Linked DNA regions of Homo sapiens: region 2 is linked to region 1. Evidence: fine-mapped expression QTL. A gene starts in region 1. The other region holds a variant in brackets. All regions are shown on one strand. Distances are between the middles of the regions. Region 1 holds the start of DOC2B (double C2 domain beta). Region 2 has its middle 17 kb from the start of LINC02091.

Region 1 (2,905 bases):
GCTAATTTCCTCCCCTGTGAAATGGGAACAGCAGGCCCTGCCTACATCGTGGGGTGGTTTAAGGAATCAATGAGATGACAGCTGTGAATGTTCTTGGCGCAGTACAACATATGCCATGTGTTTCTCCAGTGTTTTCAAAGGCCGGTAGTGCCCGCCACCACCCAGTTCAGAACTCACCACAAAACATGAATTTCTCATCACTTCTCACCATGAGTCTTGTCTTTCCAAAGGAAGGGAGAAGGGAAAGCCAGCTGAGCACCTCTTACCTGTCTGTGCTGGATGGGGCCTTGCCACAAGGCTGTGCAGTTGGAAATAGCCTCACTTCATAGATGAGGAAACCGAGGCTCAAAGAGGTCAAATAGCCTGCCAGAACTGTGCAGCTGGAAGCCACAGGCCAAGGCTTTGCCTCTCTTTCCTCTGCTCCCCATCACTCTGCAGGGGTTATGGTGGGGGAACAAGAGAGGCTTGGAGCCCCTCATTCAGATGCACCAAAGGCACCCACTAAGAAGCTAAGTGTCTTACACATCAGTGGAAACCAGAGGGTAAACAGGATTCCATCCATGCCCAGGGCTTTCCGGGAACACACCTGTCCAAGCAGCAGCAGTTCCCAACAGAGCTCTGGTCCCGGAAAGCCGGACAGCCAGGGCTGGGCCCTCTGGGATTTGTTTAGTGATCTGACCGTGTGGGAGGCCTAGAGTAGGAGTGGGGGTGGGGGGAGCGTGCCGCCCAGCCTTATTGCATCACTCACCGCCCAGGCCCTGCCCTCACTCCCTCCTGACCAGGCCCTGTGCAGGTTCTCAGCCACCCTGCCCCGGGGGGTCCTTCAGACTGTACTCACTGACCAAGTGAGGGACTGACCCGAGGTTAGAGTGCTGTGTTGTATGTGACCTGAGAATATGTGTGCACAGACTGAGCCCCGGTGTCCTTGTGCAGTTGAGCGTGTACATGTCCTGCCCGTGTGTAGGCAACCTGTCCCTACATGCTAGGAGTGTGACTCCACGTCCTGCTAGAGGGGGAGGAGAGAAGGAGTTGTGCCCAGGGTCCCCTGATCACTTCTATGGGCTCATGTTTGTGCATCTTGTTAGGGGTGCTTGGGGGTAGGGAAGCCTGTGCCCTGGGTGCCCTTGATCACCTGTGTGTGTGCTCCATCAGGTGTGCGCGCCTGTGCATTGGGGGTGTACTGTGTCACAGCTTCCTAAAACAACCATGTGCGCATGCAGACGTTTGCGTGTGTGACCTACGGTGTGAGCGAGCGGATGCTTCCACCACGTGTCTCTGCACACGCATGTGTGCACTTGCACACCTGCGTGTGTCCCGAGAGAGCGAGCGGAGCCCAGCGTGGGCTGGCACGCGCGGGAACGTGTGGGTGCGCGTCCTGCGGGTCCCTGCCGGGTTGACTCCCAGCTTGTGCCGCGGGCGTGCATGAGCGGAAGGCGCCCGGCGGCCCTGCCTGGCCGCGAGTGTGCGCGCGCGGGGTCCCGGGCCGGCGTGCACGCCGGTGTGAGTGCGAGTGCGAGTGAGTGTGGCGCCGCGCGGCTCCCTCCGCTCCGCGCCGCCCGCGCAGCCCGCACACTCACCCTGCTTGGTTGCTGCCGGGTGACGCGGGCTGGGCCCGCCCCCTGCCTGCCGGCCTCTGGCACTCGCTCGCGCCGTCCGCAGCGGAGCGGGCAGCGGCCAAGTCAGGGCCGTCCGGGGGCGCGGCCGGCGATGCCCGCAGCCCCCGCCGCGCCCCGCCGGGCCTGCTGAGCCGCCCCCGGGCCGGGGTCGCGCCGGGCCGGGCCGCGCCCGGGGCGGGGCGGCGCTGCCTGCATGACCCTCCGGCGGCGCGGGGAGAAGGCGACCATCAGCATCCAGGAGCATATGGCCATCGACGTGTGCCCCGGCCCCATCCGTCCCATCAAGCAGATCTCCGACTACTTCCCCCGCTTCCCGCGGGGCCTGCCCCCGGACGCCGGGCCCCGAGCCGCTGCACCCCCGGACGCCCCCGCGCGCCCGGCTGTGGCCGGTGCCGGCCGCCGCAGCCCCTCCGACGGCGCCCGCGAGGACGACGAGGATGTGGACCAGCTCTTCGGAGCCTACGGCTCCAGCCCGGGCCCCAGCCCGGGTCCCAGCCCCGCGCGGCCGCCAGCCAAGCCGCCGGAGGACGAGCCGGACGCCGACGGCTACGAGTCGGACGACTGCAGTAAGTTTCCCACGCGCCGACTTCGCGCCCCCTCCCCTGGCTCGGGCTCGGCCCCCCCACGGCCTCGCGGCTTCCCTCCGCCGGTCCCCCTCGCGCGCTCGCGCTCTGCCTCGGTTCACAACCCCGCCGCGGGCTTGCGGGCCCCTGGCGCACTCGGTGCGCTCTCCGCGCCCTGCCCACCGGCCTCGAGCCCTCCCCCGACCCAGGCCGGACAGGAGGGAAGTTCGGGGGCACCCCCTGGGGGTGTCCCATTTCCGGGGCCGGGTTCCTCGGAGCCGGCGCCGCGCCCCCTCCCTGCCAGCCCGCCCTCCCGGAGCTCCGGCGCGGGCGGCTGCTTTTGTTCCCGGGAAGGGCGGAGCTGCGTCCCGGGGAGACACCAGTTGCTGCCGGCCGCGCGGTCGCTCCCCGCTCGCCAGCCGCTCCGGGAGGGCCTCGCGGCCGAGGGTCGGGGCTGGGGCGAGCTGGGGAGGGGCCCGAGGCTGGGAGCGGCCCGGCCTCCCGCGTGGTCCCGGCGGCCCGCAGAGCGCAGCTGCTTTGCTGGCGCGCGAGCAGAGGACCAGGAGGACCGCGGGGCCGCTTGTCCTTTGGAAAAACCTTGGCGTTTCCTCCTCCGGTGTCCATGGACCCCGCCGCAGCCCTCGCCAGGGCCGCGCACCTTCGCCCACCTGTTACGCCCGCGGCCCCCGGGCAGAGAGGGCCCCCCAGCCCGCTCCCCCTCCTCCC
Region 2 (2,905 bases), 23 kb before region 1:
TCCCCAGCAGGAAGGAGGCTGAGGCTGGATGGGGAACTGGCCTGCCTGCAGCCTCCACCCCAGGCCACCCTGCCCTGCACTCCGCCCATGGGGGAGAGAAGCCTCCTACATAAGGTGACCAGCTGGAGGGTCCAGCTGTTGGAGGTACTAGGCAGAAGGGGCCCTCGCCAGGGGAGATGGACGGCACACAGACGCACACACACGTGTGCATACACTAGTATGTACAAACACAGAAAGGTTCACCTGTTTACAGAATACGTAGGAGGCCAGGTGCAATGGCTCATGCCTGTAATCCCAGGACTTTGGGAGGCCAAGGCAGGAGTATCACCTGAGCCCAGGAGTTCGAGACCAGCCTGGGCAATATGGAGAGATGCCATCTCCACAAAAATTAAAAAAAAAAAAAAATAGCCAGACGTGGTGGTGCATGCCTGTAGTACCAGCTACACAGGAGGCTGAGAAGGGAGGATCACTTGAGCCCAAGAGTTTGAGGCTGCACTGAGCTGTGACTGTGCCACTGCACTCCAGCCTGATTGACAGAGCAAGACCCTGTCTCAAATATATGTGGAGGACCAGTGCCTTTAAATTGCTCATCCAAGTGCCAGCAAATGCTCTTCTGCACAGGGGAGGGATGAGACCAAAGGAAAACCTGGCACTGGCATTGCCCGGAGTATGTGAGGAGAAGGACCTCGCCAGGCCATGTGTGAAGAGCATTGGCAGAGCCCCTGCCATGGCTAAGTCCTGGTGTCCCCTGCAAAGCAGGGCCTTGATGCTCCAGTTTCCTGTCCCTTTCCTTTCCTCTGCAAACGGTCAGGGCTCTGACCCGCAGCGCCCGGCCCCACCCCGGGGCTGTCTTGTGCAGAAAGCAAAGCAGAGTGTGCCTCTCCTCACCCCACAGTACCGAGGAGAGCAGGCAGGCAGGAGGAGGAGGAGGCAGGAGCTCAGAGATCCTTAGGAGCCCCCGACGAGGTGCCCCCAGTCTCCACCAAGACGGCCGAAGCTCTGAGCCTTTGATGCAGACCTCAGGATGTCTGCAGCTTCTTCAGTGCCAATTACCAGAAAATAATTCAGCGTGCTCACCCCCTGCCTCTCAGCGGCTGCTCTTTGGAGACATTTTAAGTCTGACTGTACCTGCTGAGCAGCTGACAAATGAAGCTTCTCCCTCCCTGCTCCCTCCTTCCCGACTGCCATCGCCTCCACCTTTGCCCAGGCTCTTTCATGGGGAAAAGGGAACCAAAAGCTGGGCCCTGTCATCCCTGCCCCCACAGCAGGGGCCTGCCCAGATCAGTCGCTGCACCTTCTTCCCAGGCTCTGCTTCCAGACGTGGCATGGCAAGGCTGGGTTCCCTAGAGCCCGGCTCCTGAAGGCAGAAGTCAAGGCTTATTCACCTTTGGGTCCCTAGTTAGCTGTCAAGAAATATTGCTGGATCAATGGATGCATGGATGCATGGGTAGATGGAGGGGTAGGGGATGGGTCAGTGGGTGGTGGAGGGGTGAGGATGGTTGGGGGATGGGTGGATGGCAGGTGAGTGAGGAGATGGATGGAGGTCTGGATGAGTGAGGGATGGGTGAGGAGATGGATGGGTGAGTGGGTGGAGGAGTGGGGGATGGGTAGGGCGATAGTTGAGTGGGGAATGGGTGGGGGAAGGATGGGTGGGGGAGGGGTTAACGGATGGCTGGGTGGGGGAAGGGTGAGTGGGGGCATAGGGGGTAGTTGGATGGATGATGATTGGGTGGGGGATGGTGGGGGTGGGTGGGTGGAGGACAGATGGGAGGATGGATGATGGACAGACTGATGGAGCATTGGACAGATGGATGGAGAGACAGGTGCATAGA[T/C]ATTCTGCATGGACCAATGTGCTGAAGGACATCTGAGAGGATGGACAGATGAACAGAGGATGGACCAGTGTCCTGATGGGAAGAAGGATGTGTGGATGGATGGAAACACTCCAGGCCCAGGGCCTGTGTGCTCTGCATCCCTAGGGAGGGGCCAGCAGATCAGGAGCCCCAACCTACACTTCCCAGAAGCTGTGGGTCCTCGGCCAGGAGCACTCAGTTCACAGCAGCCACAGGAATCCTGGGCAGAGCAGCTCTTGAGCCCTGGTCTCTGTGCCTCAGCCTGGTCTGCGTACCTCAGAGGGCCCTTGTGTGGAGCCCTGGTCTGTGTGCCTCAGAGGCCCTCGTGGGGAGCCCTGGTCTGTGTGCCCCAGCCCGCCTCAGTGACCCCCAACAAATTCCCCCCCTATCAAAATCACTATAGCTGTAGTCCCAGCTACTTGGGAGGCTGAGGCAGGAGGATTGCTTGAGCACAGAAGTTGGAGGCTGTAGTGAGCCATGATCTCGCCACTGCACTCAGCCTGGGTAACAAAACAAGACCCTATTCAAAAACAGTAAATAAATGAAAGAAAACCCACTGCCACATTCCTTATGCTAATAAGGCTAGCCAGCCCTTAATGTGTGTGCAGATGAGATCTTACTCAAACTCATTCACACAGAAGTACAGGCATGTGTCACCTAACAACCAGGATACGACAGGGATACTTCCAAGAGATGTGTTGTCAGGCAATTTCATCATTGTGCAGACATCATAGAGAGCACGGACGTAAATCTAAGTGGCAGAACCTACAGCACACCTAGGCTATGTGGGAGAGCCTGGGCTCCTGGGCTACAAACCTGTGCAGCATGTAGCAACTGCGACACCGTGGAATTATGTGTGTAGCTAATCATAGAAAGGGTACAGTAAAAATACGGTATAAAAGATGTTTTAAAATGACACAGGTGTATAGAGCACTTCCCGTGAATGGAGCTTGCGGGACTGGAGTCGCTGTGGGAGAGTCAGTGTGTGGTGAGTGTGAGGGCCCAGGGCATTACTGTCCACTCGTATGTGACTGGCAGTGTAATAGGTGTGTTCA

What was found.
Region 2: its variant is fine-mapped to the expression of DOC2B in whole blood (TOPMed, PIP above 0.99).

Annotation. Positions count from the first base shown.
Region 1 is chr17:180,384-183,288 of GRCh38, reverse strand. DOC2B (double C2 domain beta) reads left to right here and starts at 1,639. Exons shown (of 9, transcript NM_003585.5): 1 at 1,639-2,182. The coding sequence starts at 1,810. RefSeq lists enhancers at 754-1,255, 2,717-2,905.
Region 2 is chr17:203,228-206,132 of GRCh38, reverse strand. No RefSeq gene overlaps it. Among named protein-coding and RNA genes, the nearest start is that of LINC02091, 17 kb to the right of the region's middle. The variant T/C (reference allele first, on the strand shown) is at 1,833.